Linked DNA regions of Homo sapiens: all the other regions are linked to region 3. Evidence: fine-mapped expression QTL. A gene starts in region 3. Each other region holds a variant in brackets. All regions are shown on one strand. Distances are between the middles of the regions.

Region 1 (4,246 bases), 170 kb after region 3:
GGATTTGGTAATAATACCTGATGTATATATACTACTTAGTAGAGTGAAAAGCTCTTATCACATTTAATACTTATTGCAGTTTTATAAAGCAGCAGTGTGCTTTGCTTATAAAACAATCGTCTATGTTAAAGATGAGGAAATTGATGTTTAGAGAAGTCAGGTGGCTTGACTGAGGTTAGATATATAGCTAGTAAGAGCAGAGCTAAGATTGCATTTTTTAAAAGTATTCATTCACTCATCAACTCTTTAGACATTGGTTGAGGGTCTGTAAGTTGCAGCCACTTGCTGTCGTCTGAGGATATGAAGATTATAGCCCTGTCCTCACATCTTATTGTTTAATAGACCTAAACTCAAGTCTTTCTTTTAAGTCTATTCAGTTTGTTTTCTTCAGCTTCCTTGAGTTTCAAGATGGATGAAGAAGAATAGTTACAGGTTAAATGAGCACATTGTTGAGTGATTGGCTTTAGGTGGGAAGACACATAAGCAGAGTTGTGAAGGTGAAAATAAAGACAGCATGTGTTATGAGGTGAAGATTTGGACAAAGGTGGTAAACAGTTTAGGTAATTAAGTGTGGCTTTACAGGCCTATAAATTTTGAGTTGTAAGAATCAGAAGAATACATATATATCATACATCTATCATATAAATATATGCTGAAGCAAGACTTTTTGAAGTCTGTGTAGGTCCTTATGGTTAGAATGTGCTCACATTCTTGTGAAATACAAGATTGGTTAGGAGCTATTTATAGCAGGAGATAAGCACTGGATAGTATTAGAAAAGCCTGGATTCTAGTTTCAAACTACTTTTTACTAGCTGTGTGATTTTAAATAAATACATAAATAACCTTTTTGAGTTTCAGCTTTTATATCCGTGTGTAAAATTATCTGTGTGGGGCCTGAGCACAGTTGATTAAATGTTTGTCTAATGAATCAGTAAGTGAAATAGAGAAAATAATATTTGCCCAATGTACTTTTGCCAGTTACTGCAAGGATCAATACTTAACTAAGTACTCTATAATGGTACTGTCCAAAATTTTAGAAAATTGTTACTAATAACTAACTTTTTTGTGTGTAATTCCTGTTCTTTTTCCTTTTTTTGAACAGCTGCTGGACAAGGCCACATAGAGTGTTTGCAGTGGTTAATTAAAATGGGAGCAGACAGTAATATTACCAACAAAGCAGGGGAGAGACCCAGTGATGTGGCAAAGAGGTATAAATCTCTGTCTTCTTTACTCCTTTCTTTTCTCTTTAAAGTTTTGCGTATACTTTTTTGGACTCAAAAATCTCTGAAGTTTTAATGGAATTTTAGAGGACTCAATCAAATACAGATGGAATGACAATTTTCAAGCTGAATTGACAGCTGCCATTATATCAGCTTTTCTTTTTCAAGCAGTAATTCTCCACTGGGAGGTAATATTTTCCCGTTTCCTCATGGGAGGGGTCTTTGGAAATGTTGGGGAAGGTTGTCACAATGACCAGAGACCTTCACCAACTGGAGGTCCGGTCTGGGAATGCTAAATGTTCTGCAGTGCTCAGAACAGTAATTCATGATTTGTCCCATCCAAATGCCTGTAGCATTCCCTGTTAAGAAATGCTGTGTGATAAAAATAAATAGTCAACATTAATAATAGAAAAATAAGTGACTTGGATTTTGAAACATATTTTGCAATTTACATCCGAATTAAATATAGCATGTATTTTTAAACCTAGCCAGCTCATTCAGGTTAGGTTCTCAAGAAATATTTACTCCATCTATTTGTTCGTTTGGTTGTTCTTTCATTCAGCTTCCCGTATACTTACCATGTTCCAAGTTCTGTGATTAGTGGTAGAAATACAAAGGGGAGAAAACACAGTCACCGCCCTCAAGGAGTTTACAGTATTGTGGAGAGACAAATATGCAAATAAAATTCTTATTAATTCTAATCATTATACTGTATTACATGGTATGTGTAAGGTACACTAAGAATATAGAAAAAAATCTTTCTGTTTGAAAGTTGTAAGGGAGAAACTTTAATACAGAGGAAGGTAAAAGTTATGAAGGAAACTGCATGGGGACAGAATTTAGATAGAGGTGAAAGAAAAAACTTTTCTTTTGAGGAAGCAACATTTCTGTTGACACTTGTAAGCGTAAGTGTAAATGTAAGGAGGAGTTGTAAGACAACACCTTATATGTTTGAAGAACTGCATGTGGATTAGAAGGCTGGAATCTAAACTAGGAGTGTGGGCTAACAATGGCAGATGAGTCTTGACAGTATGCTCTGGTCCAATCATTTGCTAAG[T/A]TGCCATGCAACTTTTGTTTGTGAGCTCATGTTCCCTAAAATTTTGTTTATGGAATTTCTTTGATGACTTGGAGTGTGGTTTTGTTGTACCATGTACCTGGGATCATTGTCAGCTCAAGTCTATTTTATTGGTTTAAAATGGCTTTATCAAGGTATAATTGACACACAATAAAATGCATATATTTGTACGGTACAACTGATGAGTTTTGATGTATGCGTATCCTGTGAAACCATTGCCACAATTAAGATAGTGAACATATTCATCACCGTCAAAGTCTCCTGCCACTTTATAACCTCTCTCCCTTTGACTGCTCCCCAGTGTGCCCAAGTAAACGCTGATCTGCTTCCTGTCACTGTAGATTGGTTTGCATTTTCTAGAGTTTTATATAAATGGAATCATACAATATATATTTATGTCTGGCTTCTTTCACTCAACGTAATTATTTTGAGATTCATCTGTGTGTATTAGCTGTTCATTTCCTTCTTACAGCTGAGTAGAATTCCATAGTATTCCATAATTCAATTATCCACTCACAGGTTGAAGGACATCTTGATTGTAGTTCATTTTCTTCTAACAGCTGAGTAGAATTCCATAGCATTCCATAATTCGATTATCCACTCACAGGTTGAAGGGCATCTTGATTGTATCATTTTTTGGTGGTTATGAATAAAGCTGCTGTAAACATTACTATACAGGTTTTTGTGTTAACATGTTTTCAATTCTTTGGTAAGTCTATGAGTAGGATTGTTGGGCCATATGCCAAGTGTATGTTTAACTTTATAAGAAACTGCCGAAGTGCCTTCCAAAGTGGCCATACAGATTTGCATTTCTAGGGGCTGGGTGCAGTGGCTCACACCTGTAATCCCAGCATTTTGGGAGGCCAAGGCAGTGGATCACTTGAGGTGAAGAGTTCGAGACCAGTCTGGCCAACATGGTGAAACCCTGTCTCTACTAAAAAGGAAAAGTTCAGGCCGGGCATGGTGGCTCATGCCTGTAATCCCAGCACTTTGGGAGGCCGAGGCGGGCGGATCACCTGAGGTCAGGAGTTTGAGATCAGGCTGACCAACATGGAGAAACCCTGTGTCTACTAAAAATACAAAATTAGCCAAGCATGGTGGTGCTTGCCTGTAATCCCAGCTACTCAGGAGGTTGAGGCAGGAGAATTCCTTGAACCTGGGAGGTGGAGGTTGCTGTGAGCCGAGATTGTACCATTGCACTCCAGTCTGGGCAACAAGAGCGAAACTCTGTCTCCGAAAAAAAAAAAAAAATTCAAAAAATTAGCCTGGTGTGGTGGCGTGCACCTGTAGTCCCAGCTACTACTTGGGAGGCTGAGGCAGGAGAATTGCTTGAAGCTGGTAGGCAGAGGTTGTGGTGAGCCTAGATCGCACCACAGCACTCCAACCTAGGCGACTGAGCTAGACCCTCAAAAAAAAAAATTTTGCATTTCTGTCAGCAATGGATGTCAATTTCTGTTGTTCTACATTCTCACCATCATTTGGTATTGTCAGGGTCTTTTTTTAATTCTAGTAATGAAATAGGTATGTAGTGGTAGCTCACTGTGGTTTTAATTTGCATTTTCTAATGAAAAATGATTTTGAGCATCTTTTAAATATACATACTTGCCATCTGTATATTTTCTTTGATGAAGTGATTATTCAGATCTTTTGCCCACTTTAAAAAATTGAATTGTTTTCTTGATGTTGAGTTTTAAAGGTTCTTTGTATATTCTGGATACTAGTTCTTTTTCAGATATATACTTTGCAAAGATTTCCCTTTTTTACCGGTTGTATCTCGTTTTTTCATTCTCTTAATGTCTTTGAAGAGCAAAATTTCTTACTAATTTATCCTTTTATGTATTATGATTTTGGTGTCATATCTAAAGAAGTCTGATTAACACAAAGTCATAAAAATTTTCTTTTATGTTTTCTTTTAGAAGTTAGTGTTAGCTTTTATATTGAGGTCTGTGAT
Region 2 (4,246 bases), 93 kb before region 3:
TTGATTCAACAGGACATCAATGAATGGACCGACAAAGCAAGTCCAGCATAGGGCATAATGGAGGGCCAGTCTCTTGGCCTAACAACGTGCAACCAACCTCTTCCCTGAAAGATAAAGGTGGGATGCACTTGTGGCAGAAGAACGAGGCCCCATTAAAAAAATCATTAGCTATGAATTAACAGATATTTAATTGAACATGTTATGAGAGGCAAAGTACTACATACAACATGGAATTTAGGTTAATAGGTCACCTGCTCCAATCTCCAACCAATTGGATCCTCTCCACATCTTTGCCTCTTGACAGAGGCTATTACCTGAGGCAGACTGTCCCATAGTGAACCAACTTTTTGAGAATGGTCGCCCTGACATGGAACCCAAATCTGTGTCCCTACGGCCTCATTCAGTAGGCCTCATTCCACCCCTCTGAACCACAGAGCATCTTGTTCTAATGCACTAATTGTATTCCCCTCTTTTTCCTAACCTAAGTCTCCCCAAATCCTTCAAGTATTCTTTAAATGGCTTGCATTTAAAATTCCTTCATCAGACTGGTAATGCCTCAATTTGTTTTTAATTTCAAAGTATGGCTCCTGGAAATGATAATAACATTCCAACATCAAGGGACTGAGGAGAGGAGATGAAATGCCATCTCCCTTACTCTAATGTTGCTATATTAATATGTGTTTTGAAGGGATGATAATTTCTTAATTCAGTATGAAAAAATTACCAGTGTGAAGAATGTAAAGGAAGGCATCTTTCCTTCCAAACGCAAATAGGCTCATGCCACAGAAATGAAATCCAAAAAGAAAGTAAAGAAAACATATCCCTCCCTTATCCCAAAATTAGTGTTTAACCATGCTGCTTAAATGGAACACATTTTGTCTGAAGGATGAGAAGCAAATGTTGTTTCACAGCTTTTAATTCTTTAGCGAAGTCTCAAAAGTATCATAGTATAAACATGTCAGGACCATGGTTGAGAAAAGTAACCAGTTGCAGTTAAAACAACAACAACAACAACAAAAAATTTTGGAAAAAAAGGAATGGCAAACTCTAGAAGATCTCTCCCAGAGGCTAATAGAGCAATGATCCCTAAGTACTCATTACTATGAAATACAGAGTTCTACAAGATTAAGAAATAAAAAAGACATTAGATTTTTGCCCTAAATGACAGGTAATAAATCTAAACTTAGGAACATTTCCTCACAGTTCAAAAAGTTCTGCCCACCTTGATTAACTTGTTTTCTGAATACCTTTAGTTGCTGGCTTAGTGGAGAAGGCCATTGGTTTGATATGCAAAAAAAAAAAAAAAGATTTTTTTCTGATTGTGCTATTTCATTCATGTGGCTTGGCTTAAAAGAAGATGTTTCACTTTAGTAGGAAGACCAATTCAAACATCATTTACAACTGACGTTTATTCAGTATGAGTCATGAACTGAAACTTGGTGTGGGATCTGGTGGAATTATGGGCTAGCTTAAAGGGTAATGTGGCAAATCATTGGCCTAATTCTGTGGGAATCACCAGTGTCCTCCCAAGGCATATATTCATGAATGAAAGAAGATAAGAACCCAGTCCTTTGCTAAATCTGGCGTCTCTGGCCAAATCTAAACGGCTTAAATAATCCTCATCCAAATATCTTATTTTGGCCAATCGTTTCTACCTTCCTTATAAACTCTAAATCAGAACTTGACACATTGTCAAATCAACCCATTTAACTTTCATTTTTAGTTTTCTTGCCACTTTACTCAGGGAGAGATAAAAACGTGAAATGATTAAAAGACCGAGAAAAAGAAAGGCCAGGAAGAACCCATGGCCTAATCTAAGTAATCCATCAAAAAAGATAATTGGCCCTGTAAATTCAAAAAATATTAATATAATTCAACAGATTTAATAAAAGCACACAAAGGGAGAAAAAGCCTTCTATGGGCAAAGAAGCACAAAATCCTTTGAGGATGTAGTCTATACAAAGCCATAAGAAAATATCATTATCAGCAAACTATTATTTCATAGATTTTCCCAAGCCTGACTCCATGACATGAGTATCATGCATTTTCACTGGAAACTGAAAAAAGTTTTGCCATATATTTAATAACTTTATTGAATGAAGAAAAAGATCACACCAAAAATGGAGGAATACATCAACCCTGGTGGTCTTAGTAGACCGAGCCAAATTAAACTATATGATAAAGCAATTTCTCTTTTTTCATCCACCACTAAATGAGAGTTCATTTTTATCTAAAGAAGGCTCATCTTAGCAAATATTGCCATGACAATAAGACTGTTAGGCAAACCAATAAATTTAGGTTCTGGCCTGGGTTAAGATGA[CTG/C]TATTTAGTGTCCTTTCTCAAGTTCTACTTGAAGGAATTTCTGTTTAATCAAAAAAAGCTCCCCCAACCACTACCACCCCACCTTGGCACTTAAATGTTTATTTGACTAATATTTATTGCACCTACAATATTGTCAGGGATTGTTTTCAAACTTCAGATATATTAGTAGACAAGTATCCATAAGGCCTAATCTGGAATTCATACAACTAAGAAAAAAAGAAACAAAGTCCCACATTCTCATGTGTTCCTGCTGATGGGCTGTGGATGGGTAAGTTATGGAAAGGCTGGGAGGAGCAACAAGGAAGATAGAGGCCAAGACCAGAGCTTTTTAATCCCCTTCTGAGTCTGGCCAAGGGTATATAGAGAAGGCTAAACCCTAGGGAATAATACAAGTGTGACCCTAAAAGGTATTATTTTGCAACTAAATCAGTCCAATCTAACACAGCCATTTCCTCTAAGTTCACAAAGCAACTTTATTTTCAACACACTTGCAACTGTGAGACAAAGTTGGGTCATCATGTGCTGGGGACACTGGATTTTTGCCCTAAATGACAGGTAATAAATCTAAACTTAGGAACATTTTCTTACAGTTTAAAAAAAATTCTTCTGCCCTCCTTGATTAACTTGTTTTCTGAATACATTTAGTTGCTGGCTTAGTGGAGAGGATGGGGAGGGAAAGGCAACAATTATTATAAATTATTTTGGTTTTTATTAAAATGACTTTTCTTTCCTGCAGAGACAGATTCTAAAAGAAAAACAAGTCAAACTTCTGGGATGCCTTTCTCTTTCCCACAGGATCAGGAAAAACACAGTGAGGCCAACCAAAAGTATCAGCCCCTTAAAAAATATGCATAATCTCATGTGCAAGACACTGGTCAATCTAGAACCTGCTAGAGAAATGCCAGAAATGCTTTATCCACATCATGTCTCTACATGACTAATTTCTTTACAATTAAATAGCTTTCAAACATCAACATATCAGAACTGAGATTGTCACCATCTACAGCAACAGTGGAATTACACATCATATCCTTATTCCATTACTCATCCCTCAGTTATGCTAAGCAGCAAGCTACAGAAACATCTGACAGCATCAACAGCATACAGGTTTAATTATTTTCCCAATTTGCATTTATATCAGTGAACAAATTGGAAGCTATCAAAGTATGGCACTGAAGAAAAAGAAACACATATTCAGCAGCACATCTCCCATTTTGAGTCCTGTTTTTAAATTGGCTAAGTAAAGGCATATACACCTCCATTTGAATTGGAGATTTGCAGTAACACAGGCATATAAGGATGGGAGGGAAGGAGGGAGGGAGGGAGGGAAGAAGAAAAGGAGAGACCAGAAAAATAGAGAGGAAAAGAGAAAGAAAAAAGAAAGAACATATGGTTAAGCGTCTGAAGGTAACATTATTACAAGAAGGAGGGGATAAATGACAGTTCAATCTGCTTCCACGAGCAGAATTTTTCTAAGGTTATCATCGAAGATATAAAAATGGGTCGTGAGACTTTTCATCTGTTGCTATTCTCACTTATCATACTAAAAAATCTACAAAATCCTAAGCCTTGGTCTGTCCAAGATGGAGAGTACCAGGAAGTAAAAGATGTGACCTACTATCAAGGACTGTGCTCTGCTAGGAGCCCTGCACTACAGTCCATTAATCCACAGTATTTTGGTCATATCTGGTCTGTTTCCTCATACTACTCAAAATGTGTTAGAGCTAAGTTTTTATATTAGAATGTCATCAACCATTTGTTTATTTTTTTCATTTTGCAAACGTTTTCATTTACATAAAGGGCTGGAGAGACAAGAAAGTGGTAGAGATTCAGAGGGGAACATAAAAGGAAAAGTATTCTCTTTTCCCAAAAATCCACCTTTAAAAAGGTAGTAATGAGACTTTGAGAAAGAGTGCTGATTCAT
Region 3 (4,246 bases):
TGGAGGACCAGGGAGTGTGTTCTAAGATTGAAGAGAAAGAGATGTGATATGCTGGTGATAAAGGAGGGGTTTTGAAACAGAAAGGAAAAATGTAAACTGCAAATGGAGAGATAGAGAAATAAACAGAATTTCAAGAGATGTGGGTGGGATGGGGTGGGGTGGGGGGAAGAAATGAAAGTACAGGAGAGAAGGGTAGGGTGTCCAGAAGAGCAGAGCGTCATCAACAGAGAGACGCAGAGGCAAAGGCTAACTGTTGATCTTTTCCCAAATCCAAAAGCTGCTCATTGGCATCCCAATAAATCACTCTACTACAAAGCCCATACAATGGACTGTCCTTTGCATTCAGCATCAAGCAGCATTTAATGAAATATCACACAGCTACAACTTTGGAGACCTAAGGATCTGAATTTAAAATGAACAAAATTGGCTTAGCAGCAGAAGACAGCCAGTAAAGAATTTCGCCCATGTCTGACTCAGCTAGGAAAAGGTTTAGCATTCTAGAGTTAAGCAAATACTCTGGCATTTCTCCTTCTTTTGACATTCCAAGAGGGGGTGTGGTTGACCCCAGGCCCATTCATTTCCAAGGGTGTAGATCTCTCAGCCAAGACTGGCCCCATCTGTTGTGGAGCCAGCCAGCTGTTTATCTCAAAGTAACATATCTATTGCCCTAATTATCCCTATAACTCTTACAAGAGCATCATGTAAGTCAGAATGCTTTCTCTCCTGTTAAATGTCAGTTCGTTTAAAAAAACAACAATAACAAAACAACCAAAATCACTCTTCCATGGGCACCTTTCAGTAATGGCAAATGAAGGTTAACAGCGCTTCTAACTTTCCCTTTCTCTAATGTGTTAAAATGAACCCCTCTTCCCTAATCGATCTCTTCAAACCGTTATTTGTGAGTAGTGACTATGCCTCAGGAAACAGCAGCTCATTATGGTACCATTGTCAGTGGCAAAGAGCCTATGCAATGTAATTTAAAACACACAAGCACAAATCTGTCGGCTCCACTTCCAAACAATCTTGAATCCAGCAGTCGGAGAACGGAAAACATTTAACAAAAACGCTGCTTCCAGCAGCCTGAAAGAACCTTCGCCAGACACGTGAAATGTTTCTGACTGGCACGGAGTGCACCATTAAAGGACACTGTCACCTCAAATCAGCAGAAAAGGCGAGACAAACCACATAGACATACACACATAAAATAAAGCCCTACAAAACTTAAGCACGTTCATCTTAAAAATTAATAACTAGTGCTCGTCCAAGCGACATTCAAATGTTCTAAAGTAGTGCGACCACATTAATTCACTGTCTCCATTTCTCCCCACGCATCACCCCTTCCCACTCAAACCTCAGCTCTCGGGCCGTGTGTGACAGGACTGCAGTCCCCCACCTCTGCCTTCCTCAGATTTTCCAAGAGCACTCCCCAACATCCTTCCCAGCCCAGCCCCCTCTCTCCGCCTCAAAAAGGTTGAGAGGAGTTGCGACTAGGGAATTGGCAGGCACCCGTCCTCTGGCGGGGGAAGGTTGCTGGAGTTGTTCTTTGCAGTGACCCAAATGGCACAGAGCTTTTCCCCTTAGCTGTGCCTGCAAGCCTCTCCCCAATCCCCCCCACCTCCCCACCGCTCACAGCTTCCCAAAAGAAAGCCTTGAGAACTAAGCGGGAGGAATAACTTGGTAGAAGCATTTGAATAAATCACTTCAACTCACCTGGTTTGGGATTTTTCTCCCCACCCCAGGCATAAACAGAAATGGATGTGCGAATGAGTCACGCACGCAAGGGAAGGTCTGCGATGTCCTGAGTCCAAGGGCTGGAGTCAGTCCCTGCCCTGGTGCTGCTGCTACACTTAGCTCAGCTGGAGCGAGCGGCAATCGCAAGCCCAGCAGCAGCAGGGGGTGGAGAGACCGTAGCACAATGAATGCAGTGGGGCTTTTGCAATGACATCATCCCTCTGTCCAAACGTCCCCAATAGCCATGCTCGGGAGCGGTGCTTTCTGGGAACTGTAGTCTTCTTACGTCCTGAAGGGATACCCAGGCAATCCCCGAAACTACAATGCCCAAAATGCTCCAAGTGGGACGCGCCCAGAGTGAAGGAGCAAAGGGGACTCGGCCGCCATGTTAGGAGTACTGGGACGATTCCGCGGAGCCGGGCAGAGGTTTTAGGGGTGCGCAGGAGTCAAGTGGTGGTTCAGTGGGGACGGTGAGGTGGAGGACGATCTGGTCGGATAGCCGCGGGCACGAACCTGGGAACCAGAGGGTGGAGGCCATGCTGGGGACTGATGTAGGGCGGGACCGACTGGAAGCGGCATCCAGAGGCCCAGTGAGCCTCGGTCTCAGCTCCTGAAGGGGTTGCATGGGGCCCTACGCTTCCTTCTCCATTTTTTAGCTAAGAGATTGAGAGAGTCGGTTTACTTTTGGGCTTGGAGTATCATTTAGATCTGTTAACAGTACAGTTGAGAGAGTTGGTGTCTTTTGTTGAGGTGCGAGGACCCGAGGCGGCGACCCTCGCCTTTATTCGGAGAAGCCCACTTCCACCCACAGAGTTGGGGTAGTCCTCCGAAATGCATTTTTGTTTTGCCGTTTGTTTTCCAACCCCCTTTCACTCTCCCCAAAGCTTCAGATTCACTGATTTTTCATACAGGAATGATTAACAAAGGCGTCCGAAGAAATCGTTGTTGGAAGGTGACCAAGGTGGAAAGAGACGTTGCTTTGGCCCTGCAAGTAAGAAGAGAGAGGGAATAGCCTGAAGGAGTAACACTAAATTTAAAATGACACTTTTTTACCAACCAGCGAAAGCAGATGTTCAAAGGGGATATTGGCCAGGTGCGGTCGCTCACGCCTTTAATCCCAGCACTTTGGGGGCAGACGCGGGGAGATAGCGTGATTCTAGGAGTTCAACCCCAGCCTGGGCAACATGCGGAGACCCCGTACCGTCTCTACAAAAACATTAAACAAAAAAATTAGCTGGGCATGGTGGTGTACCCCTGTAGTTGCAGCTACACTAGAGGCTGAGGTGGGAGGATCGCTTGAGCCCGGGATGTTGAGGCTGCAGTGAGCCTCGATCCTACCACTGTGCTCCAGCCTGGGCGACAGCAAGCCCGTGTCTCAGAAAAGGCGGGAGGGGTGGGATATTATTGATGATAGGCCTTCTGACGTCTGGCAATAGATTCCAGAGTAACATCGGTCATGGATAAATTTTTTTTTTAACTAAGTGACTGAAACCAAAGTTAATTGTCTTTTGAGTGATTTTGCACAGTATCTCAAAATGAACTGTACTTTTTTTCTTGTGTCACTGAAACAGTGCTGTGTGTTCTTTTTCAGAGTCTGTCACACTAAGATGAGAAATGTCCTTTCTTCCTGAAGGTGTCTGATGTGTAAAAATATGATATACTTTGTGCTGTTTCCTCCCTTCCCTTTTGCATATTATTCTGAAACAACATTAACTAGTTACTTTGCGTCATTGAAGGTATGCACTTCCCCTCTATGTTAGGAGTGAATAAAATTAAAAATAGATCCTTATAACAAAGAAAGGCAGATAGAATGATTAAAAATGACCAAAACATGTTAGAAACAGTCTCTCAGGTGTATGCAGATGGTAATTACAAAAATACTTTTTCAAAAAATGATCTTCTGTGTCATGTTTCTGGGAACAAGTCAAGATGAATGAGTTTGATTTTTAAGCAGAAGTAGTATGTGTTGGTGTCATCCATGAATACAACAATGAAAAAGGCTCAAAGTTGTTGTTATTCAGAAACTTCTCTAAGTAATGGTGGTAAGTACAGGAAAAGGAGCAATGTCTACCATTTTCTTTCTAACCTTCGATTTAACTATTGTAATGTTGTAAGCTTAACAGAGACTTACACTTAGGCTTAATTTCAAGCTCTTCAATCATTTTTCCCGGTTGGTGATTCAGGTGTATTCTCATGTCTTATGTAAACTTATCATGAGTGTTGTTGATTTATAATATATTTCTTTATGTAAGCCATAGCCTTGTCAGTTTGAGTTATATGGAAGACAAATTGTAGGGAAAAAGAGCAACAGATTACTCAGAAACCTTCTGTGTGAGCTGGGCATAGTAGTGCATGCCAGTAGGCTTAGCTACTTGGGAGGCTGAGGCAGGAGGATCACTTGATCCCATTAGTTTGAGGCTGCAGTGAGCTATGATTGTGTCACTGTACTCCAATCTGGACAACAGTGAGACTATGTCTGTTTTTAAAAAAGAAAGAAAGCTTGTGTTTGAGAAGT

The links. PIP is the estimated chance that this variant, and not a neighbour inherited with it, causes the effect.
Region 1: its variant is the best candidate, but not a certain one, in a credible set for the expression of RAB30-DT in subcutaneous fat (GTEx, PIP 0.63).
Region 2: its variant is the best candidate, but not a certain one, in a credible set for the expression of RAB30-DT in whole blood (INTERVAL, PIP 0.57).

Annotation. Positions count from the first base shown.
Region 1 is chr11:83,235,302-83,239,547 of GRCh38, forward strand. ANKRD42 (ankyrin repeat domain 42) reads left to right here. Exons shown (of 11, transcript NM_001300975.2): 8 at 1,103-1,208. Among named protein-coding and RNA genes, the nearest start is that of ANKRD42, 44 kb to the left of the region's middle. The variant T/A (reference allele first, on the strand shown) is at 2,278.
Region 2 is chr11:82,977,201-82,981,446 of GRCh38, forward strand. RAB30 (RAB30, member RAS oncogene family) reads right to left here. Exons shown (of 5, transcript NM_001286060.2): 5 at 1-4,246. Among named protein-coding and RNA genes, the nearest start is that of SNORA70E, 62 kb to the right of the region's middle. The variant CTG/C (reference allele first, on the strand shown) is at 2,321.
Region 3 is chr11:83,069,981-83,074,226 of GRCh38, forward strand. RAB30-DT (RAB30 divergent transcript) reads left to right here and starts at 2,086. Exons shown (of 3, transcript NR_038903.1): 1 at 2,086-2,166; 2 at 2,643-2,824; 3 at 3,323-3,732. RAB30 (RAB30, member RAS oncogene family) reads right to left here and starts at 1,917. Exons shown (of 5, transcript NM_001286060.2): 1 at 1,711-1,917. It overlaps LINC02951 (long intergenic non-protein coding RNA 2951), which reads right to left. Exons shown (of 3, transcript NR_186233.1): 3 at 2,422-2,716. RefSeq lists enhancers at 1-106, 1,870-2,359.